Linked DNA regions of Homo sapiens. The protein of the gene in region 1 interacts with the protein of each later gene in a biochemical or structural test. Each region holds a gene or a part of one and is shown in the gene's direction. Other genes may lie near its edges. The genes, in order: TRIM63, ANKRD1, USP4, UBE2D1, USP33, UBE2K and UBE2D3.

Evidence for each region.
Region 2: the proteins of TRIM63 (region 1) and ANKRD1 form a complex in vitro, tested with the Homo sapiens proteins (one study listed by BioGRID).
Region 3: of the proteins of TRIM63 (region 1) and USP4, one has a biochemical effect on the other in vitro, tested with the Homo sapiens proteins (one large-scale study listed by BioGRID).
Region 4: the proteins of TRIM63 (region 1) and UBE2D1 form a complex in vitro, tested with the Homo sapiens proteins (3 studies listed by BioGRID).
Region 5: of the proteins of TRIM63 (region 1) and USP33, one has a biochemical effect on the other in vitro, tested with the Homo sapiens proteins (one large-scale study listed by BioGRID).
Region 6: the proteins of TRIM63 (region 1) and UBE2K form a complex in vitro, tested with the Homo sapiens proteins (one study listed by BioGRID).
Region 7: the proteins of TRIM63 (region 1) and UBE2D3 form a complex in vitro, tested with the Homo sapiens proteins (5 studies listed by BioGRID).

The regions. Positions count from the first base shown.
Region 1 is NC_000001.11:26,050,801-26,054,215, reverse strand, and holds the end of TRIM63 (E3 ubiquitin-protein ligase TRIM63), read left to right. Parts: intron 1-251; coding exon 252-323; intron 324-2,332; coding exon 2,333-2,343; 3' UTR 2,344-2,915; downstream 2,916-3,415. UniProt on the Homo sapiens protein: E3 ubiquitin ligase. Mediates the ubiquitination and subsequent proteasomal degradation of CKM, GMEB1 and HIBADH.
Region 2 is NC_000010.11:90,911,596-90,914,841, reverse strand, and holds the end of ANKRD1 (ankyrin repeat domain-containing protein 1), read left to right. Parts: intron 1-1,865; coding exon 1,866-1,976; 3' UTR 1,977-2,746; downstream 2,747-3,246. UniProt on the Homo sapiens protein: May play an important role in endothelial cell activation. May act as a nuclear transcription factor that negatively regulates the expression of cardiac genes. Induction seems to be correlated with apoptotic cell death in hepatoma cells.
Region 3 is NC_000003.12:49,278,849-49,281,053, reverse strand, and holds part of USP4 (ubiquitin carboxyl-terminal hydrolase 4), read left to right. Parts: intron 1-206; coding exon 207-310; intron 311-2,151; coding exon 2,152-2,205.
Region 4 is NC_000010.11:58,359,006-58,362,505, forward strand, and holds part of UBE2D1 (ubiquitin-conjugating enzyme E2 D1), read left to right. Parts: intron 1-2,332; coding exon 2,333-2,396; intron 2,397-2,489; coding exon 2,490-2,521; intron 2,522-3,500.
Region 5 is NC_000001.11:77,753,353-77,756,852, reverse strand, and holds part of USP33 (ubiquitin carboxyl-terminal hydrolase 33), read left to right. Parts: intron 1-3,500. UniProt on the Homo sapiens protein: Deubiquitinating enzyme involved in various processes such as centrosome duplication, cellular migration and beta-2 adrenergic receptor/ADRB2 recycling.
Region 6 is NC_000004.12:39,736,136-39,739,635, forward strand, and holds part of UBE2K (ubiquitin-conjugating enzyme E2 K), read left to right. Parts: intron 1-1,284; coding exon 1,285-1,378; intron 1,379-3,500. UniProt on the Homo sapiens protein: Accepts ubiquitin from the E1 complex and catalyzes its covalent attachment to other proteins. In vitro, in the presence or in the absence of BRCA1-BARD1 E3 ubiquitin-protein ligase complex, catalyzes the synthesis of 'Lys-48'-linked polyubiquitin chains.
Region 7 is NC_000004.12:102,817,552-102,821,051, reverse strand, and holds part of UBE2D3 (ubiquitin-conjugating enzyme E2 D3), read left to right. Parts: intron 1-3,500. UniProt on the Homo sapiens protein: Accepts ubiquitin from the E1 complex and catalyzes its covalent attachment to other proteins. In vitro catalyzes 'Lys-11'-, as well as 'Lys-48'-linked polyubiquitination.

The DNA.
Region 1 (3,415 bases):
TTGCTGGAGCAAGGAAGTGACTTGAGCCCAGCTCCCTGGGACGGAGTGCGGGGGATTGCAGGAGCAGGGCCTCTGTGCAGCGTGGGTCTGGCAAGCCCATCCCCTCCCAGACCACTGCCGCCGCTGTGTGGCCGTTTGACCCGACTGGGCACAGGAAGGGGTTTAGACCGTGCTCTCTCTTGCCTGGTTCCTCTTCAAGTAGCTCCTCAAGGAACCGGCCCCATCCTAACACAAATGTTTTTTTGTCACAGATGAGGAAGAGGAAGAATTCATTGAAGAAGAAGATCAGGAAGAGGAAGAGTCCACAGAAGGGAAGGAAGAAGGTAAGAAATTCATCTACCTCCATTCCTTCGTTCCTTCATTCATTCCACAACAATCTGAGGTGCCTACTGTATGTGAAGCACTGTGTTAGACATTGGCAATGACGCTCAGAACTGTCCCCAGCACGTGCTTTAACCCTACTGAGGGTAAAGTCCTGTTCTCTTTACCCTTAGAAAAGAAAAAAACCCCAAACTATTCATAATAAAATGCTCCCATTTCACATCTAAATGATCTTCTTAAATGGAAAGCAATATGGCACAGCAGAGGGAAAAGACAGGGGCTCATGAGCTAGGCTGGGCCCATTGAGGTGTTTTGTTTGGCCAGCACTGTGTTTAAATTAAAACAAACAAACAAACAAACAAAACTACTTGCTGGACAGGCACGGTGGCTCGAGCCTGTAATCCCAGCACTTGGGGAGGCCAAGGCCAGCCTGGCCAACATGGTGAAACCCTGTCTCTACTAAACATACAAAAAATTAGCTGAATTTGGTGGCAGGCGCCTGTAGTACCAGCTACTTAGGAGGCTGAGGCAGGAGAATCGCTTGAACCTGGGAGGTGGAGGTTGCAGTGAGCCGAGATCGTGCCACTGCACTCCAGCCTGGGTGACAAGAGTGAGACTCCATCTCAAAAAATAAATAAATAAATACTTGCTGGCTGGGTGTGGTGGTACGTGCCTATAATCCCAGCACTTTGGGAGGCTGAGGCGGGAGGATTGCTTGAGACCTGGAGTTTGGGACCAGCCTGGTCAACAGCAAGTCCTCGTCTTTACAAAAATAATTTAAAAATTAGCCAGGCATGGTGGTACATATCTGTAGTCCTAGCTACTCGGAAGGCTGAGGCTGGAGGATTGCTTGAGCCCAAGAGGTAGAGGCTGCAGTGAGCTATGATTGCGCCACTGCACTCTTGCCTTGGCAACAGAGGACACTACACTGTCTCTTAAAAGAAAAAATTAATTGCTAACATTTTTAAAATTAGGTTTTTTTTAAGGGTTAAGAAAAAGGAGATTTGAACTAAGAATCTGCATTTTCACCTTGTGAAAGTTTAGAAAAAGCAAACAATGCTGGACTTGAACTTCCTTGTAGTCCCAGAGTGCTGGCTCTGGGCAGTGGCTCTCCCCTTTAAAGGGGACACGCTGGCATGGTGGCTCACGCCTGTAATCCTAGCACTTTGGGAGGCCGAGGCAGGCGGATCACCTGAGGTCAGGAGTTTGACACCATCCTGGCCAACATGGTGAAACCCCGTCTCTACTAAAAATACAAAAATTAGCCAGGCGTGGTGACGGGCACCTGTAATCCCAGCTACTTGGGAGGCTGAGGCAGGAGAATCGCTAGAACCCCAGGGGGGCGGAGCTTGCAGTGAGCCGAGATCACGCCACTTCACTCCAGCCTGGGCAAAAGAGTGAAACTCCATCTCAAAAAAAAACAAAGAAAAGAAAAGAAAAATGGGACATGCCCTTGCCAGTTTGCCCAGCCCCACCACCACCAGTCCCGCTTGCTTCACTCATTCATGTTATCTGCTGGCTCCTTGTAGGCATCTGAGTTTGCCAGCCTGGCAGAGTTTGATTAGGAGCCTGGGTTCTGAATCACAGCAGCTCACAATTTCTCTGAGTCTTGGGCTACTCATCTGTGTATGGGGGTCTAACAGTACTGACGTCAAAAGGTTGTAGTGGGAAGTGAATAAGATAATCGTTTAGCACGGTGTCTGATGCATAGGAAGGACGTTTGCTAATTAGCACATGCTTGCAAATGTTATTTTTCAAACCACAGGTACTGAAACTAAATTCCAATCCAGTTGAAAACTATAGGTAGTCTTTTGGAGTTTTGTACTGATGTACAATCCATAATATTTGGGCAGCTAAATTCTATTTTGGTTTTAAAAGGAAGAGACCGGGAGGAATTGGAGTTTGATGTTTTATTCAAACTCCTGTTTGAATAAACAGTAGCTTGGTAAGCCTTGGATCCTCCTGAGTCCCTGTCTCACCCCTTGCCTCTGTATCTTTTTCTTCATTTCAGGACACCAGTAAGGAGCTGGATGAATGAGAGGCCCCCAGATGCAGAGAGACTGGAGAGGGTGGGGAGGGGCCCAGCGGCCTTGGTGACAGGCCCAGGGTGGGAGGGGTCGGGGCCCCTGGAGGGGCAATGGGGAGGTGATGTCTTCTCTCTGCTCAGAGAGCAGGGACTAGGGTAGGACCCTCACCGCTGCGTCCAGCAGACACTGAACCAGAATTGGAAACGTGCTTGAAACAATCACACAGGACACTTTTCTACATTGGTGCAAAATGGAATATTTTGTACATTTTTAAAATGTGATTTTTGTATATACTTGTATATGTATGCCAATTTGGTGCTTTTTGTAAAGGAACTTTTGTATAATAATGCCTGGTCGTTGGGTGACCTGCGATTGTCAGAAAGAGGGGAAGGAAGCCAGGTTGATACAGCTGCCCACTTCCTTTCCTGAGCAGGAGGATGGGGTAGCACTCACAGGGACGATGTGCTGTATTTCAGTGCCTATCCCAGACATACGGGGTGGTAACTGAGTTTGTGTTATATGTTGTTTTAATAAATGCACAATGCTCTCTTCCTGTTCTTCAAAGGAGCCGGGGTTTCATTCAGCCTTTTTTTCCTGGAGATGAGGGTTGAGTGTGAATGAACAGGACCCCTGGTAGGAGGCAATGGCAGGGCTAGGCTTAGGTCCCAGTAAAGGAGTTCTCGACACCACCATTTCCCAATGTGGACTCCATGGAAAGCCAGCCCTGAGCTGGTCCTTCAAGAACAGGTTCAATGTGTTGTTGCTCTGGTTCTCCAGAAAACAGAGCCTGAGGCAAAATTTAAATGCTTTAGTTGCAGGTTATAGGGACTTCCCCGTGCTCACTGAAGGCTCACTGAAGGCTCACTGAAAATCATCAAGAAGAGGCAGATTAAGGCTGGGCAGGTGCAGTGGTTCATGCCTGTAATCCCAGCACTTTGGGAGGACAAGGAGGGCAGATCATCTGAGGTCAGGAGTTCCAGACCAGCCCGACCAACATGGTGAAGCCCCGTCTCTACTAAAAATACAAAATTAGTTGGGCGTGGTGGCGCATGCCTGCAATCCTAGCT
Region 2 (3,246 bases), on another chromosome or scaffold:
AAACACCATCTAATATAAGCTTAAAAAATATTGCCCAGAGGAACAGGTATAAATTTCTGAAGAAATAATTTTAAAGAAGCTTTTGAAGAATCACTTTACAAAAAAGAGTGGGGGGGGGGGGAGGGAAACTCAGTCATCATATAAATGCAAATAATTTTCTCCCCTTATTTGTGTTGCAAAGACTGAGAGGAATATCTTATCTTTTAAAACAAATCTGGCTTGGTGACAGGATCAAAGAATGGTGATAAATGAAGATTGCTTGGGATGGGAAAGTGTTAACAGTAGGGCTTCCTCAGTCTAGATATTGGAATTGATCCTATCTAATATTTTTTTAAACTATCAGAAAAAGAGCAGGTTAAATGAAATCTTGAAAGCTGCAGAAAATGTGAAGATTTTTTTTCAGGCAGTGAGACACTACCAGCAGAGACAAATAGCATACAGGTTTAGGGAGACTGTGTAAGTAGCCAGAAAAATCACAATATAAATTTCAATGGAGAGAAGTGCAAGGAATTTATGGAAGAGTAGCCCAAAATATACAAATACGGCTTAGGGTTCTGAATTATCAGTTAGATATTAGCATCAGGTTTATGGAACTATTAATGTCATTGACCCAATGGATTGATGTTTCCCCCAAAGATCAATAACCTATTGATGCCATCTTAAGGAGATTGGGAGCAGCATACAATATTTTCTCATTATCCAAAACTGTATATTCATGTCTACTGATGATTGTTCCTAGAGAAAGACACTACAGAGGTGGGGAAGTTCCAAAATGAAGGTTATAGGGCCACTAATTTAAATACCTACAGATCTCATAATCTGACTGCAGACTGACCTCACTGTGCCGGGCAGATGGCCTAAGTGACTTCAATGTGTGGCTGTCAGGGTCTGTGCACATAACTCTTTTAAAGGTGGCCCTTCCCCAACCCAGTCTATGTTGCTCTGTGGAACCATGGGTACCATGTTTTTAACTCTTCTGATTTTTTCATAGAAGTCACAAATCCAGCTCTTGGTTTCCAACTGTTGCCAATTCATACTAATCTTAAAAAAAATCTAAGTTCTGTTTGGGTCAAAACAAAACAGGTCTCTATTCTGGTTTGCATCTCAAAGCTGCCAATTTGCAGTCGCTGGGTTAAAAAGAAACTTCTCAATGAATAGAGATGGAAAAATTTTGGACTTCTCAGATCTATAGATGAGAATTGAGAGATGACATGGTTTTAATATTTTTAAATCTTGAGACACGTGCATAAGGGAAATCAAAATTTCGTCTCAAAAATTATTTGTTCACATGTGTCATTGCCATCAACTCCAAGAAAAATACATTTCCTGGGAGAGTCCATTGAAAATTCTGACAAGTTATGAAAAATCTGCTCCCAGGAACAGTAATAGTACCCAAGCAGTACCTAAGTCCTTAAGCCAAGTTATTGATGCAGCTCATTTACCATCATTTCTTATCAATCAAAGAACTATCATTCAAATGGATAGGCACTGATTCTTGGTCCAAGAGGCATGCTCCCACCTCCGGGAGTCCATTCCACAGGATACTGGAAGATGTATGGAGACATTTTATAAATTTCAAAATGACTTGAGGTGCTCTTGACACATAGTGTCTAGGGACAAGGGATTTTACCAATACCTGGGATGGTCCCACGTGAAAAAGATTTTTGCTCTAAAATGGCAAAAGCATCCCTCTGAGAAACAGTGAAGGACTGGTTTGAGTATAAACTGCAGATCACTCCTGGTGGAAACCATAAAACACTGTTATAACATATACCTAATCCTTACCTCATGAAACACACACAGAGAATGTGAATTTACAGATGTCACCCACCTGAAAGTCAACTTTCCTTATCTCATTTGATTAGGCTGGGAAGACGCCGATGGATCTGGTGCTACACTGGCAGAATGGAACCAAAGCAATATTCGACAGCCTCAGAGAGAACTCCTACAAGACCTCTCGCATAGCTACATTCTGAGGCAAACGACAGACTCTTAATCAGTAAATGTTCACTGGCATTTTGAAGGCATGGCCCAAGAGAAGAGACACTAGCCATAAAATCTAGTTTCTATTTATCAACGTGTTGTGAAGATGTACCTAATGAAGTTTTGAGAAAGCACAGGGTTATAGGTGTTTAAATTTCCTTTAGTGAAACTCTTATTTATTTTTATGTATTCCTGTTTATTTATTTACTGCCACGCTACTGATATTCAGACCTTCATGATCATCCATCTGGTGAGCAGAGCTTCATTTGTATATAACACTTTCAGAGCCTTCCCACCCATAGGTAGTTCTTAAACCAGGTGAAAGAGCAAAGTTCAAGTGCCTACTTATGTGTCATTCGCTCATGTAAGAGTTTTTAAGAGAGGGCTGATTATCACAGCCCTCTTTTCTCCTGAATTTTTAATGCAGAAGTTTGAATGAAGCAAGGGAAGGCATGTAGGGACAGGAAAGGAAACAATGGAAGGAAAGTGATTCTGTGAAAAGGACAGTGAAGCCAGCTATTTTACCCCCAGGCTGGATTTTTTTTTTTTTTTTTTTTTTTTTTTTTTACCGAGTACACAGAGTACCCAAGTGAAGAGAACGTCATGAGTGTAAGTGCAAATCAGTGGAAGGAGCGGCAAACTGGGACATGCAGAATTGAATTTGCTCAAAAAAGATGAAAGGAAATGCAAACTGTAAATGTATAAATGTATATTGTATTGTATGTACATTTTATATTCATAATAAAGGCAATCAAACTCTAAACCTCTAAGTCCTTCTATAAGTGTGGTGGAAATGTCCTATGTGAAAAAAAAAGCTATATAGGAGGGTTTTTTTTTTCCATTGTTTTCCAAGTTTTGCAGATTAGAAATGTCCCGTACAACAGCACTCCCAGTATTTAATATGTATACAGATCACCTGGGGATCTGGTTAAAATGCAGATTTCTGATTCAGCTGGTCTCAGGTGGGGCCTGAGATTCTGCTTTTCTGACAAGCTCCCAGGTGACAGGCCACGAAATGCCACCACCACACTGAGCAGCTAGGCCGAGAGCCATAAAGACACAAAGGAATTCTAGCGAGCTTTCAGTCCCAGTGGTGTGTAGAAAGAGACCCCTGGTGGTCAGAATGATTTCTGCATGGTAAACCCGCATTTCTTACGAAGTTCCCATTAAGGCTTAACTAGTGACTTTTTTAAATTTAAATTTTAAGTTCTGGGGTACATGTGCAGGATGTGCAGCGGTGTTACATAAACGTGTGCCATGGTG
Region 3 (2,205 bases), on another chromosome or scaffold:
CCACCACACCCAGCCCCATTTTCTAGCCTGAATATGTCAGTGGTCAGAACATGGATCCTAGAGTCCCTTCCATCTTGGTCTCTCTCGAATAGTTTGAGTGCCTCCCTGTGTTCTGCCCTGTTGCATAACAGAGGTTGCTGGGTTACTCTTAACTACTTTGTTTGGGTTTAACATATTCAATAACTATTTTTGTGTTTTGTGCTCAGAGGGCTGAACATGTCCGAGTTTGTCTGTAACCTGTCAGCAAGGCCTTATGTGTACGACCTCATTGCCGTGTCCAATCATTATGGAGCCATGGGGGTTGGCCACTGTAAGTATTGACATCTGCTTCCTTCTGAGATGTTGAAATGTGCTCGGCCATCATCTCTCACCAGTGGACCAGGCATTGCCCTAAATGCTTTGCTTATGCAGTTTCACAGGCTTCATGCTGCACGCTTTCTTCATACTGATTCCCCTCTCTGTTTTTTTTTAATTCTTTTTTTTTTTTTTTTTTTGAGACGGAGTCTCGTTATGTCACCCAGGCTAGAACACAGTGGCGCAATCTCACTCACTGCAAGCTCTGCCTCCCAGGTTCACGCCATTCTCCTGCCTCAGCCTCCTGAGTAGCTGGGACTACAGGCGCCCGCCACCACGCCTGGCTAATTTTTTGTATTTTTAGTAGAGACGGGGTTTCACCATGTTAGCCAGGATGGTCTCGATCTCCTGACCTCGTGATCCGCCCGCCTCGGCCTCCCAAAGTGCTGGGATTACAGGTGTGAGGCACTGTGCCTGGCTGGTTTGCTCTTTTTTTGAGACAGATTCTCACTCTGTCACCCAGGCTGGAAAGCAGTGGCGCAGTCTCGGCTCACTTGCAACCTCCACCTCCCGGGTTCAAGCGATTCTCGTGCCTCAGCCTGCCGAGTAGCTGGGATTACAGGTGTGCGCCACCACACCTGGCTAATTTTTGTATTTTTAGTAGAGACAGGGTTTTGGCATGTTGCCCAGGCTGGTCTTGAACTCCTGGGCTCAAGCGAACCACCCTGCCTTGGCCTCCCAAAGTGTTGGGATCACAGGTGTGAGTCACCGTGCCCTGCCTGTGTTCATTTTTATTTGCTAATTTTTGCACACAAACATACCATTTGGGCAAGTTTCTCATCCTCAGTTTTCTCATCCATGAGGTTAGGCTGGTTGTGTGAGGGTCCACATTGGGCCTACAGTTGGAACTTCAAAATTGAAAGCCACCGTTGCTGCTATTGTGTCAAGCACAGACTGTGTGAACTGGCCTTGGGCACCTTCTCTGTTGCCCTTTCCCATGATCCTCACCACCACTTTGTGCAGTCAATGCTATAGTGAGGAAACTGAGGCTGAAGTGTTAAACACCTTACCTAAAACCACACAGTAAGTTGACACTGGATATCAGATCTCCATTGGGTTCTGTAGTTTCTGAGAGTCTGGGTGGAGCAGGAACTGGGCTGGGATTGCTGTAATAAACACATCCTGCTTGGGAATAGTGTAAAGTCAAGACAAGAAGCATTGCCTCTGGGAAATGCTTGAATCATTGTGGGAAACTGTTACCTAACCACAGACTCTGGACTCCTAGTTTTAGAGAAAGATAAATTTTTTTTTTTTTGGATATGGAGACTAAGGTATGTTGTTCACATCCCAGCTCTGCAAACCCAAACACCCAATGTTCCTCTAACTGGGATTATTCTGTAGGCTCCCGAGGCACTAAGCATTCTGTTGATGTTAGTAGCCACCTGCCTAGATGCAATGGGGGAGACTGACTTGGCATGTCCTTGTGAGAGCTATTGTTTTGCTTAAATCTTAGAAGTTTCAGCTCCTTTTATGGGTTCCCTGGTTTTGGATTATTGCACATAGCCATCCTGAAGATTGGCACTGAATAGCTCTGTTTTTTCTATTAGTTTCCCAAAATTATAGTTTAAAATCTTGGTCCCTGACAGCTCCATTTTTAGCCTTTTGATCCTTTTTGAGAAGGAACAGATTAGAAAAGAAGGTGAGTTGTTTTTTGGTTGTTAAGACACACACTGTAAACTTTTTTAATTTCAGGGGTTTTGTTTTGGGGATTTTTGTGTTTATTTAGTGCAAGCCTAATAAGCTAGCCAGATTAATTCTCTGGAGACCGCTAGAGTATTTTCTTTGTTGACTTGGCAGACACTGCATATGCGAAGAACAAACTGAATGGTAAATGGTATTACTTTGATGATA
Region 4 (3,500 bases), on another chromosome or scaffold:
AGCTATTTAAAAAAAAAAAAAAAAAAAGCAAAACAAAAATGAAAATACCAAGGTATACTGGAAAATAACATTGAGCTTAGAAGGAGACCTGAGTTTGTACCTGGCTCAGTCACCCAGCTCATTTATCACTTTCTTAGGAAGGCCTTTCCCTGTCACACCCTCCTTCTTGTTTGTCTCTATTAGAGCACTGAACTCATTGCCATAATTACCTTATTGCAGTGATTCTAAGGTGGACATCTTTCACATTTTAACTTTTCTAAAGTGTGGATGCATTTTACAATTGATGGTGTTTTAAAATAAATTGGCAGCATTTTTTCTTAATTATTGGTACTTAAAATAAGGATGTGCTGTACAGTTGATGACATCTTAGATTTGATTAAGTGCATATTTATTTTTGTGTGTTCCCACAAAAATGTTTACATCATTCTCATGGTTTTAAATATCAGATATATGCAATGATTTTCCAATTTCTATCCTTTTTTAAGGTCCACCCCTGTATGTTGAACCACATTGTTTCTTCATATCACAAGGATTACAGATTCAACATATCTACTCTCCAAATCAGTTTGTCTTCTATTGTTCTCTATCTCAGTGAATGGCATCCACATTCGTACATTTGTGGAACTAAAACATGAGATGATCGCCCACCTGGGTTTGAATCCCAGTTCCGCCCTATAGTAGTTACTCAAGCATGCAGTGAAGTATGTCACCTTAACTATTCACTTGTAAAATGGGGAACATAATAACACCTATCTCTGAGGATTGTTAGAATGACTAAGACATTGAATAAATGTTAGCTGTCCCTAATCTTCATCATACATATCTATGACTTCTCTCCTTCCTCTGCACATGTAATTCATCAACTCCTGTGATAGATAGGCCCTTCAGAGTATCTCACATCTACCACTTCTATCTTGTTGCCACTTCTCCAATCTAAGCCCCCATTTTTCTTGCCTATGCAGCAACTAATATTGTAGCTTCTCCTCTTTCCCATGTCTAATCCAGTCACAACCATCCATTAAATCAGAACATGCCACTTCTTAAGACCTCCCTCACCCCCTACCTAATGCATTTGGTATAAAACACCACATCATTAATGTGGTCTGTATGGTTGTCTGTTTCCTGCCTGGCTTCTGCCCACATTTCCAGCCTCATCCTCTGCCACTCTGCCTCCCAGTATCACTCTTTTCCTCCAAAAGTAACTCCTACTCATCCTTTAGATTTCAGCTTAAATGTCACTTCCTCAGAGATGATTATTGATCTTCCAAACTAAATTAAGTTCTTCAGTTATAGTCCTTTATATTGAATGTATGCCTTTCTTCTTTGGGATGATCAGTTTCTCCCAAACTGTGGCTAAAGAAGTGAAGTAACTTCCACAAGGCCAAAGAGTGAGATCTATTAGAACTGGAATTCTCTCTGTTAGAGGAAAAAAAAAAATCCAAAAAAGAGAAAAGAAGAAAAATGGAAAGAACTGGAATTACAACCCAGGGGCGGGGTGAACTCTAAAGCTGTGTCCTTTCTGTGATCTTTGCTGCCTTGAGGGCAGGAAACAGGGTATGAATCAATGTTCTAAGTTTCAAAACATGGCCTGACTGCTGCTCGTTTATTTCCCATTTCAAGTTGTCCTTAAATGAGCTGGGTGCAGTGGCTCATGCCTGTAATTCAATACTTTGGGAGGCCGAGGCAGGTGGATCACTTGAGCACAGGAGTTGGAGAACAACCTGTTCAACATGGCGAGACCCCATCTCTACAAATAAAATTAGCCGGGTGTGCTGGCACATGCCTGTAGTGCCAGCTACTCGGGGTAGGAGTGGGGGCCTGAGGTGGGAGGATCGCTTAGGCCCAGGAGGTTGAGGCTGCAGTGAGCTTTCGTGCCACTGCACTCCATCCTGGGCGACAAAGTGAGATCCTGTCTCAAAAAAAAAAAAAAAGTTATCCTGAAGTATTATTCTTTCTGAGCCTTCATGCTCCCTCAATAGATTGTAACCTGTTAAAATAGTACCTGTTTTCTGATATATTATCAACCTAGCATTTACATAAATTATCTTACATACAGTAGGTACTCATTAAATAGTTTTTCTCTTAGGGATGTTAAAGAAAAACAGTATTTTTTTTCCATTTAATCTTTTCAAGGTCTGAAGCTGTCTCATGGAGGAATTGAGTACCTTATTCTTTCTACCAGTCAATGACAGAGTACAATTTATGTTTTTATATTTTGAATAGAACTGCTTTAAATGTTTTTAAAGCTAATAGTTTGCATCTTAATGGATCATTACCCTTGTTTCATTGGGAAAAGAAGGAATTAACCTTACATATTTTTGATTTCCTTCAGGAATTGAGTGATCTACAGCGCGATCCACCTGCTCACTGTTCAGCTGGACCTGTGGGAGATGACTGTAAGCCTTGCTCTATTTCTGGGATTATGCTACCTTTAAAAATATAGGTTTGAACATTTGTTAATGACTCCAAAACTCCTTTGTTTGTTTCAGTGTTCCACTGGCAAGCCACTATTATGGGGCCTGTAAGTATGATTCATATCTATGAAATTAACCCCCTCAGCCATACTTCATTCTTGCCATTTCACCTTTGATCAGATGTTTGTGATGAAGGTTGAATATTCTTGTACTTTGAATCACCTAGGAAGCAAAATATTATTAAGGATTTACAATGATTTTCCAAAGCATTGGTGGCAAATATTTCCTGGGATCACTATTATGTTTTCCTTTGCTGAATCCTAGATCATTACACATAATGGAGTGCCACAGCTCGCAACCAGGCTGTGTGTTTATCTTTTTTTTTTTTTTTTTTAAGTCACAGAGAGTTAGTTGTAATTAACCATAATCATTCTCACATCCACAGTTTTGGTAGGTTAGAAATTAGTCTAATGAAGCCAATAATTGAATTCCTACAAGTAACAAGTGTCAGTTTGCCATAAGTTTCATCACTGTTCTTTTTTGTGAAAGAGAATCAATAAAATATTACAATGGGTCTGTCTTTACCTCCTTATAAATTTGCTGCTTTTAATTTTGTTGCATTGTCCTAAACACAAAATTATCTGCTGTTTGATAATTGGCTACTCTCAATACTTATTACTTTTGTTAAAATTATTTCTTTCAATACTTTAGAGGCAGTTACAAGACTTGAAACAGGCTTTTTCTTTCTATGAGCAAAAAATCTGATTGCATAAGAATGAGCACTGACAGCTCAAATCTACTTTCTGGGTGAGAGTACATAAGTAACATGTTTCCATGAACACCATTCTCTTCTCCCTGCCCTGAAAGAGCTTTATCTAGTGAGTTACAGAGTTTTTAATCATACGACCTTGTGTTTAACTTTAAAAAACACCAAAACTACTGAATTTCAAAGCAGTACTCTGGGCAGTTGTCTCAAATTATTGTTTTATTAAGTTTGTTTTTCTAAAAAGGCAAAATACAATGTATTTATATAACAACTTTCAATAAGAATCCATTTATTTCTGTTTGTTTTTAATTAGTTACTAA
Region 5 (3,500 bases), about 52 Mb from region 1:
GTGACCATTATTTTTGTAGCCCTTATGGTTTCTCTGAAGTGCATCTTGAACTTGGACCTGAGATGACATGGGTGCAGGTGAGATGCTATAAAGCACAAGTGAGGAAGCAGGTAGAATCAGAGAAGGAGGAAAAAAGGTTAATAGTGGAAGGCCAACTGGAGGCTGCTTAAGCCTTTGGAGATTTTTGTATAACTGCCTCAGAGTTTTGTATAACTGCCCCAAATGAAGGGGAGCTGGGTGGTTTTCCATCTACAGTCAATCCTCACTGATAAAGATTGCCTTTATCTAAAAGGCTCCCAGAACTTCCCAGGTACACTGGTTAGGTAGGGCTTGGCAAGCTCCTGAGGTGCTGGAGAGCTGAGGAGAGAAGTAGTTGAGATGGGAAGTTGTCAGTGTGTTAACTGTGCATACCAGCTACAAGTAAACATTGAAGTGAGCTGAAAGGAGATGGTCCAGGTATCAACTCTGTGTCTTAACAGGCATTCTCATTGAATAATCCAGATGTGAAATAAAAGCCTCAATTTAGATAGAGACCTAGAAGAAATGTGAGATGAAATGTGGTTAAAAAAAAAAATGCCGAATTTAGAAACTGATAGAAAGTGAGGAGGGGAGCCAGGTGCTGTGGCTTGAGCCTGTAGTCTCAGTCACTTGGGAGGCTGAAACAGGAGATTTGCTTGAGCCCAGAAGTTCAAGTCCAACCTGGGCAATATAGAGAGCCTCCCATTTCAAAAAAAGTAAATGAAAAAAGTAAGGAGGGATCTAAGATGGTACTGAGGTTTAAAAGTTAGTTAACTTGTGAAAAAGAAGGGTTGACAGAAGGACACTGACTTTCAAATTAGTTTTTTAAGGAAAGTGAAAAAATTGCATAGTATTCAGGAGAGTGATGATAAGAGTGTTGATGACCAGTCATTCAAAAGGAAAGCAGGGTGGAGACTTGAACAATGCTGCCATCCCCACAAACTTATAATGTCTGGCCCATGCTGGATTATAAGCATTTGTTAAATTAATTTCTATCCCCCAGGGCTTATCACAGTCCTGAAATACAGTAATGTGGTGAAACTATAGGGCTGAATGTGACCTAAAATAAGACCATTTCCCACAGGTTTTAACTTTTATAAAATCCTAGAAGAGGAATTTCTTATATATTTTACTTTTTTGTGAAAGGGTCTCACTCTTGCCCAGCCTGGCGTGCAGTGGTGCGATCTTGGCTCACTGCAACCTCCACCTCCTGCGTTCAAGCAGTTCTCACCACTCAGCCTCTGGAGTAGCTGAGATTACAGGCGCACGCCACCATACCCAGCTAATTTTTGTATTTTTTGGTAGAAATGGGGGTTTCACCATGTTGGCCAGGCTGGTCTCAAACTCCTGACCTCAAGTGACCCTCCCACCTTGGATTCCCAAAGTGCTGGGATTACAGGCATGAGCTGCCATGTCTGGCTGGAATTTCTTATATTTTTTATGGAAGCATTACTGTGTTTAGATGAATCAGTTTTGATTAGTTTTAAAATCAATATTATAGTCTGGTAAACAATAAAAGAATTGATAATTTTTCTTATGGTGGTTCTCATTTGAATATGGTGATAGCATTTGTTTTCTCATATTCTTTCTTTCTTTTTTCTTTTTGCTCACAAGCTGAACTGAAGATTTAGGTTTTTCCATGTTTCTATGTGGTTTACATGAATATTTTTAATGACTGTTCCGTAATGCCAGTATATTAACTCTTCATCTTGCTCAAAAGTGAGACTTAGAGTGAAAATTATCATCAGCTTATTTGAGACTCTGTTAGAACTCTGTCATATTCATTAATTCATTTCTATTTCCTCTCTCTTCCAATATTTCTCAAAATTATTTCAACGAGATAAGGCTAGAATTGACCATATTTTGCCATTCATTATTGGACAGATTTTTAAAAATCTTTATAGGAAATGCTAATTAATATTTACAAATCTCATTTAGAGGATGTTATTTGGAATGAAGATTGCCAGATTGGAGCTATACTTTGGTATTATTAATAGTGGTAATGTTAAGAATAGATTGTAGAACACATAGGTTGTAGCCAGAGAACTCAGTTAGAAGACTGCGTATTTCTTTTAATAGCCTTAAGGCTCTCATTAATTAGACTCTTAAGGATCAATGAGACAGATTTTCTAGTAAAAGAGAAATAAAAAGATTAGCACTACATTTCTTTTTCTGTGTTGTGGTTTTGAATGAAAATTAAGAATGATTAGGTAAGTATTATAGGACTTTGTGGGATCTTCAAATCCTCACAGAGGTTTGAATGATTTTATTCTCAGAATATTTGTTTAAAGGGAAAGAAACAGTTATTTAAAATGCTTGTCAGCTGATTTCTTTTGTGAAAAGTCTCCCTGAGCACTTACTATGGATTGAGAATAAAATAAACTTTTCTGCTTGTTGTTGCACTCTTCATTGATAACTTCCTTCCATTCATCAGTTTTTTTGGCTTGCTTTTATTGGGTAGCAATTTTCTTCCATGATAAATATGGAAAGATAAGCCATAAGCTTATTCCTTCATTGTATTTTTGCTAAAGTGTAATATTTCATATGGTACTGCTGGACTAGTACTCGTGGAACCATAGTCTAGATTGAAACTGTTGAAAGACAAATCAATTTTTTTATAATCATAGAATCTTAATTCAATTCTGAGTTTTTAGTGCAAAGTGCTTGCTGTCCTTTGAAGCACCTCTGACAGTTACCCAACCTCTGTGTAACAATTATGGGGAACATGCTCCTTCCATGAAAGTTCATCTGTATTTGAACCGAAGTCTTCACCGTTGATTGAATATGCTGTTCTGACTTTCTCAAGTTGCACAGAAAAGAAAGGATCCCTTTGGTCATCATGTTCAATTGGAACATGTGTATCAAGTCCTGGCATCTTTTGCCTTCTGCTGTTTAAACATCCATGCTTTCAGTTCGTAATGGTTGACATTTACTGAGTACTTACTATATCACCCTCTTCTAAGTATTTTATATATACTAATATATAATATGTAATTATATATTAACGTATTATGTGTAATTATATAATTAGTTTAAAATATTATATATTAATCTTCTCCAAAACTCTAGAAAGTAGATATTTGTAATTAGATCAGTGTTTTAGATGAGGGAGCTAAGGCAAAGAGAAGAAACTTACCACTGGTCCCAAATCTAGGAGATAGTGGAGCCTTGCTCCAGAAACTTTACTCTTAGTACAGTGCTATCTTATAAGATACAGTTTTCAAATTATTTCTTTTAAGGTTTTCTATGAGAGGCACTCTTATTCTGTAGCTTTTAGTATTCTTCTTAAATAAAATACTGTATTCCAGATATAATCTACTTATTTTATGCGAACATTAAGATTGGCTATTATTTTTTCCCCTTTTCACCACTCTATTCAATTAAAAAATTATTATTTTTTTTTTGTAAAGATGGGGGGTGGGTATCACTCTGTTGCCTAGGCTGGTCTTGAACTCTTGGCCTCAAGCGATCCTCATGCCCCT
Region 6 (3,500 bases), on another chromosome or scaffold:
ATCAGGTAACAATATGGAATTCTAACCAAAAAAAATGAAGATATAGGCCGGGCACGGTGCCTCACGTCTATAATCCCAGCACTTTGGGAGGCCAAGGCGGGCGTATCGCGAGGTCAGGAGTTCGAGACAAGCCTGGCCAACGTGGCGAAACCCCGTCTTGACTAAAAATAACAAAAATTAGCTGAGCATGGTAGTGGGTGCCTGTAATCCCAGCTACTCAGGAGGCTGAAGCAGGAGAGTCACTTGAACCCAGGAGGTGGAGGTTGCAGTGAGCCGAGATCGTGCCATCGCACTCCAGCCTGGGCAGCAAGAGCAAGACTCCGTCTCAAAAAAAGGAAGATGTAACCTGTTCTTTAGGGATTTTGGTTTAAAAAATCGAGAGGATTTACTGTATTTTTAACATAGGTTTGAGAATATAAGTGGAGAGCCCATTTGCTGGCAGGCACTTACGAATGTTAATGTGAGTCCCACTGGATGGTTTTCTGAATCATTTAAGGTTATCATGGCTCTGAGAATGGACTGTCATAAGGTTAAGAGACTCAGTAATGCTATAGATAGGAAAGTACTTGGAGTAGTTTAAAGTGCAAAATAAGTCAATGTAGATAAATTTAAAGTAGAAATCTGGTTTTTTGAAGTAGGTAGTTGCCGTTTTAATAAACTAAGCAGAAAAACAAATTGAAGAAGGCCTTTTCTTTTGAGGCATTTAGTCCTCTGGAATTTTTCATGGAAAGGAGAATCTGTTAGGTAGCTAGAGCTTTCACCATTCTGGTGGATAGTGTACTATTTCAGTCAGTTAAACTAAACATTTAAAGTTGTTATGGTTAGTTCAAGTGAGAGTTTATGGCCTAAATGGCTTTTAATGACCCTGAATTTTCTGTTTAAGCAGAACCCATGTATCGTGGGGGTATAGTGCAGAATATAATATCTTAGTGTTCATCTGTGGATGATTAGATTTATCGCTTTGGGCCTGATATACATGGAATTGGCAAACATAAAATAGCTTTTATACTATTTTTCCCTAATAACATTCCTAGAAAGTCAAGAAGCCATTGTATTGTTGTTCATAGTGGTGTTATTTCGTTTAAAACAATGAAGTTAGAATTTATTAGTTTGTTTTAAATATTCTTAAAACTGGATAATTAAGTCCTAGAAAAGCCGAGACTTATTTTACTAGAGCAGATAATCAAGCTTATGAAAGAGGGGGTTTCAAGATTTTTTATAGGTAATACTTTAGGCGTTTTTCTTGCTGACATAACTAACATTTATTTTCTGTTTATTTTTAAGACGAGCAAAAATCAAATTAAAGTAGATCTTGTAGATGAGAATTTTACAGAATTAAGAGGAGAAATAGCAGGACCTCCAGACACACCATATGAAGGCAAGTACTTTTTTCTGTATCAAAATATTGTGCGTATTAGAACTTGTCTGAAACATTTAATCAGAATAATCTTAAACATCTATAAATTATATGGAGGGTAACTTCATTTGGTTTAGATAAACAGCAATTTAAAAAATACTAAATTTAGATACTGAATATAGACTGGTATTTCTTACTGAATTTTAGCTAATTTTTTTCTTTCCATAAAACAGTTTTAGCAGAGCTTTGTTACAGGTATTATAGGTTAGAATTTAATAGAATAAAAGATCTGGCATGGTAAACCTCTAAATCATATGGACTGTAGACACTCAGTTACCCTTCATATGGTATCTAAAACAGACCTTGCCTTAAATATCTCATTGGTAAAATGTTGCTTTTGTTTTTAAAGTTCTTCTTTCTGTCATTCAGCATTTCATTCACTCATGTCTTCATACAGGCTGTAGTCCAAATGTTTATTTTCTTTATTCAGGAAAGCTTTTAGTGATTATTTCAAGCCATAGAAAGGAGGTGGCTTTGCTGAACTTGGTGTTCACAAATTAAGTCTGTAGCTACTTTAGACCATGGAATCGGGTGGTAAGATACAGAAATAAACCTTATAGCATTTTACTTTCTTATTAGGTGAGTCTTCATTAATTAATATTACTGTAAATTTAGATTATATAGCATATAACCAAGGCTCTTGCATTAATAACTATTCAAATATTTGTTTATTAGAAAACATATAACAATATATGGTAACCCTAATTATACAGTCTTTACATGTATTTTCTCATTTAATCCTTTCAGCAAATCTTACTAGGTAAATACAACGATTGCTGTTTCATAGATGAAGAAACAAGTTAAGAGAAGTAACTTGTTTAAGGTCAACCATCTAAGTAGCACAACTGATAGCCTTTGTCTTCAAAGCCTGTGCTTTTAATCACTTTATGTAAATCAGAATTGACTTAATATTGGAAGTGGTGGTGATGTCTGTTTTGTTTTATCTATTTTTTTATATGCAAAGTTTTACTGTTACCCAAGCTGGAGAGCAGTGGCATGGTCATAGCTCATTATAAATTTGAATTCCTAGGCTCAGGTAATCCTCCAGCTTCCTCAGTAGCTAGTACTACAGGTGCATGCCACCATATCCAGTTAAATACTTTGTGTGTGTTTTTTGTTGTTCATTTTTTGATTGTTTGTTTTTTGAGACTGAGTCTCTCTGTCACCCAGCCTGGAGTGCGGTGGTGAAATCTTGGCTCACTGCATCCTCCATCTCCCAGAATCAAGTGATTCTCCTGCCTTAGCCTCCTGAGTAGCTGGGATTACAGGCGCACCACCATGCCGGCTAATTTTTGTATTTTTAGTAGAGACAGGGTTTCACAATAACGGCCAGGCTGGTCTTGAACTTCTGACCTTAGGTGATCCGCCTGTCTTGGCCTCCCAAAGTGTTAGGATTACAGGCGTGAGCCACCAATCCCGGCCACCAGCTAAATACTTTCGAGTGGTTCTATAATTCTGTAATGAACAGTTACCCAAAACACTTTTTTTTTTTTGAGATGGAGTCTCGCTCTGTTGCCCAGCCTGGAGTGCAGTGGCGCGATCTCGGCTCACTGCAAGCTTCGCCTCCTGGATTCACGCCATTCTCCTGCCTCAGCCTTCCGAGCAGCTGGGACTACGGGCACCCGCCACCATGCCCGGCTAATTTTTTTTGTATTTTTTTAGTAGAGACGGTGTTTCACCGTGTTAGCCAGAATGGTCTCGATCTCCTGACCTCGTGATCTGCCAGCCTCGGCCTCCCAAAGTGCTGGGGTTACAGGAGTGAGCCACCGTGCCCGGCTACCCAAAACACTTTTTAAAAATCTAATATTCTTGAATATTTTCTTGTTTTTAATCCAGATTTTTTAAGACCCTAGAATGTCTTTAGCATATTATACCAATTCTGTTTATTCATTTTTTTTTTTTTTTTTTTTGGGAGACAGAGTCTTGCTCTGTCTCTCACGCTGGAGTGCAGTGGTACGATCTTGGCTCACTGCAACCTCCGCCTCCCGGGTTCAAGCAATTCTCCTGCCTCAGCCTCCCGAGTAGCTGGTACTACAGGCGCCCGCCACCATGCCCGGCTAATTTTTGTATTTTTAGTAGAGGC
Region 7 (3,500 bases), on another chromosome or scaffold:
CCTCAACCTTGTTATGTAGGGAAGGGAAAAGTTTAGGGAAGTATTTTTATACTTTGTTGAAACATCTGATTTTTATCTCCTAATGATACTTTCAACATAATCTATTGTAAAAGAGACCTTCAACTTTTCATAGCTGAATTTGTCGTATTTAAATGTTTGTCAATTGTGAATCATGATTTCTTGTACCTTTTTCAGTATGAAATACTTACATTAATCCTAACCTTGCTGTAATTTCATGGCTAATGTGTAATTGAATGTTTTCTACTACTGGGCAGCTGTTTGGCTGTTAATCTTTGTTTTTTTTGTTTGTTTGTTTGTTTTGTTTGTTTTAATGTCCATAAAACACCCTTCTTGCTTTCATGGAGCAGAGCTTCAAATCTAAATTTGGGTTTCTTTGCCCATTTTTAAATAATGCTTACAAAAGAATGGCTTTGAATAATGTTAAGTGACTTTACCTTCAGTGGTGATCGAAAGAAAATTAGTAATATTCAATCCATTCTTAGTACCTTGTGTAATGAACACGCATGCTTGTTTCACCTATAATTACGACTAAACAGGAAGTTAATACCTTGTCAGTGATGCAGTGAGATACTGTGCAGTGCCTACTGTTAAACCTTAAGATAAAAAAGGATTTCTCAGAAGAAATTTCAAATTAAAATGTGTTTTAAAGGGACTATTTGGAGTTTTGTGAAATTGTTCATATCTTTTTGCCAAGCATCCTTCTCTTGAAATAACCATGTTTCTGAAGTTTGTTGTTCCCTGCCTTGATATTCGCATCTACATATTTTATACAGACATTTCATAACATTAAAGTTAATAAAACTTTATAGTAAACCAGATCTTTATATGAACAGTTACAGTAGTTACTGTCTGCCTGATGGACAGCTAATTGCACTGCACTTCGACCTCTATTGTTGGTTCGCACCTTTGTATTTTTCTAGGTTGGTTGTAAAGTCTTCTTGAGGATGATTCTTAAAATTTCTTAAGGCACTTACTCCCTTTGTTTCCCACCTCATTTTATCATCTCTTCCAGTCCCCAAAGCAGTGTTTTGTGTTGCTCAGTATAGGTTTTTGAGGCAAGGGCTGTTTTTATAATGCTGATTCACAGTCATACAAATCTTGTCTTTTGAGTCATGTAAATCTTGTCTTTAGTTCTGAAAGAAATAGACTCTCAAATAGAATACAAGAAATTAACCTTTAGTAATGGCATAAGCTTTTAGTTTTCCGGAAAGTGCTGAGAGGAAATGTATCTATACTACTGCGTTCTGTCCTCTGTATGACCTTTGTGTGATGACGTGCAAAATAGATGGTAGAGATTGGGATAACAAATGATTTGTGGAACATCGTGGTGATAATTTTACTGTCTTAAAGGTAGAATCCATGAACTTGGCCTTGCCACTATATAGGCTTTTGAATTTTGACAAGCCTTGGGGGGATGAAACCTAGAATAAGTTATTTATGGCGTTACGCTTTAATAGGGTTGACACTTAAAACCTTGTTTTCATAAATGCTACCTTTTGGTTATGTTGATCTGATGAACAGATACTGGCTGTCATTGAAAGAAAGTTAACCGAATGTTCAGATACTTATTGGGCTCCTGGAACATGGCTGCTCTGTAGCTTCATGAATATTCATAATATTCATAAATATTTGTGAATAAATATTTTTAGTATTTCCAATTTATAAGCTCTTTGAAAGGAGGGAATTTTTTTTTTTTTTTTTGAGGCGGAGTCTTGGTCAGCTGCCCAGGCTAGAGTGCAGTGGCGCAACTGCGGCTTACTGCAACCACCGTCTCCTGGGTTCAAGCAATTCTCCTGTCTCAGCCTCTCGAGTAGCTGGGATTACAGGCACCCGCCATCATGCCCGGCTAATTTTTATATTTTAGTAGAGATGGGATTTCACGATGTTGGCCAGGCTGGTCTTGAATTCCTGACCTCAGGTGATCCGCCTGCCTTGGCTTCCCAAAGTGCTAGGATTACAAGCGTGAGCCACCACGCCCAGCAAGGGAGGGGACATTCTTATGTTTCTCCTAGCATCCTTTCAGGTCTTTAATGTTTTCAATACCTTGGCCTACTGTTCTTTGTAGCCTGTGGTTGGTCACCACTGCTAGTACCACTTATCATTGAATGAGGAAGATAGAGAATAGAGAAGCAGAAAGCATAGTTTAACATCTCCAACAATCAACTGTTAAATCCCATATCCCATAGTGACTACAGTAAAGGTCTTCCTCAAGATAAACCATTTGCAGGCTTTGTATTAAAAATCTCATGTAAGGAATGTTTCAGAATAAAAAAAAAAATAGTGACCAAACCCATTACTGCTTAAATCATGTACTTCCAGATGAGAACACTCACCAGTGGCTTAAGCTGTACCTGTTGGTTGCCTTTTAGAGAGATTTTTTTGGTGAAAAAAATCCTGCCCTATTTTCTACCATGGTGCCCACCAGGTCTTCAGGAAATAGGCAAACAACTCAGTTGTGTAAAGTCTGTTGCTGTCTCAAATTTCTTTGTAGTGTTTTAACTAATGAGGCGAACTAGACCATGTGAGAGCTTTGAGAGGGTCTCATTTACCTAGCTTAGAAAGAAGGCAGAGGGGTCTCCTTGACTTCTTTTCCTATAGGTTTTTTAAGGCTTTTAAATACAAGTATTTTTTCCAGTGAGAAGGTCTGGATTCTCACACTAGCCAAGTGTGCAGAAAGTTTGAGGAGAAGCAGCTCAGAGGAAGATGACACTAAAAGGAGAAAGTTTCCTAAAAGAGCACTCTGTGGAAAAGAAATGTCCAACCTTTTGTTCTTTTTATAGCTAGTACAGTTTCTTAGTGTTGTACCCTGATTGTATGTGCTTGATCTTAGTGTCCCTTCAACGTGAGTGGAACCTTGAGCAATTCCTAAAGTAAGTCAGTGTCCCCAACCAAACATTTTCCTGTTTCAGTGGCCTTAATAGTTGAGTAATGCTGTTCCCCTTAGGTGAGGGGTAGTCAGCACAGTATAAAAAAATTTTACAGGTGCCGTGTGAGAGCTGTTCCTTCTGGTTCTTGGCACTGTTCCTCTTCCTCTAGACTGCTAGGAAGGAATAAGCTGAAAATTTCAATTGTGTAATTTTTTAGTGTTTTTGTCCCTGAAGCCTGTGAAACTTTAGGCTCTAAAAACATTTTGTTAGGTGACTATCGTAGACAAAATTACTTTTAAAAATGCTGAGTATGGGTGTCGTTGGAAATTGATTTCCAGTCCAGTAAATAGTCTTGCTGTGGGATAGAATCATTTTCTCAGGCCATGTAACTTGAAAAATAGTACTGGATTCACACTACGTACGAATAATGAGATACAGACTAACGGTGGATGGTTATGCGGAAATAAATACTAAGGAAAACATTAGTTTTCCATATCGTGTTCATTCTGGAGCATTGAGTAATAGTTTGGTGCAGTTGAGAATTTTTTTCCCTCAGTTTGCCAAACATTAAATTATCTTTGCAAGGACACCCTGTTGAGAAAGGAACCTTTT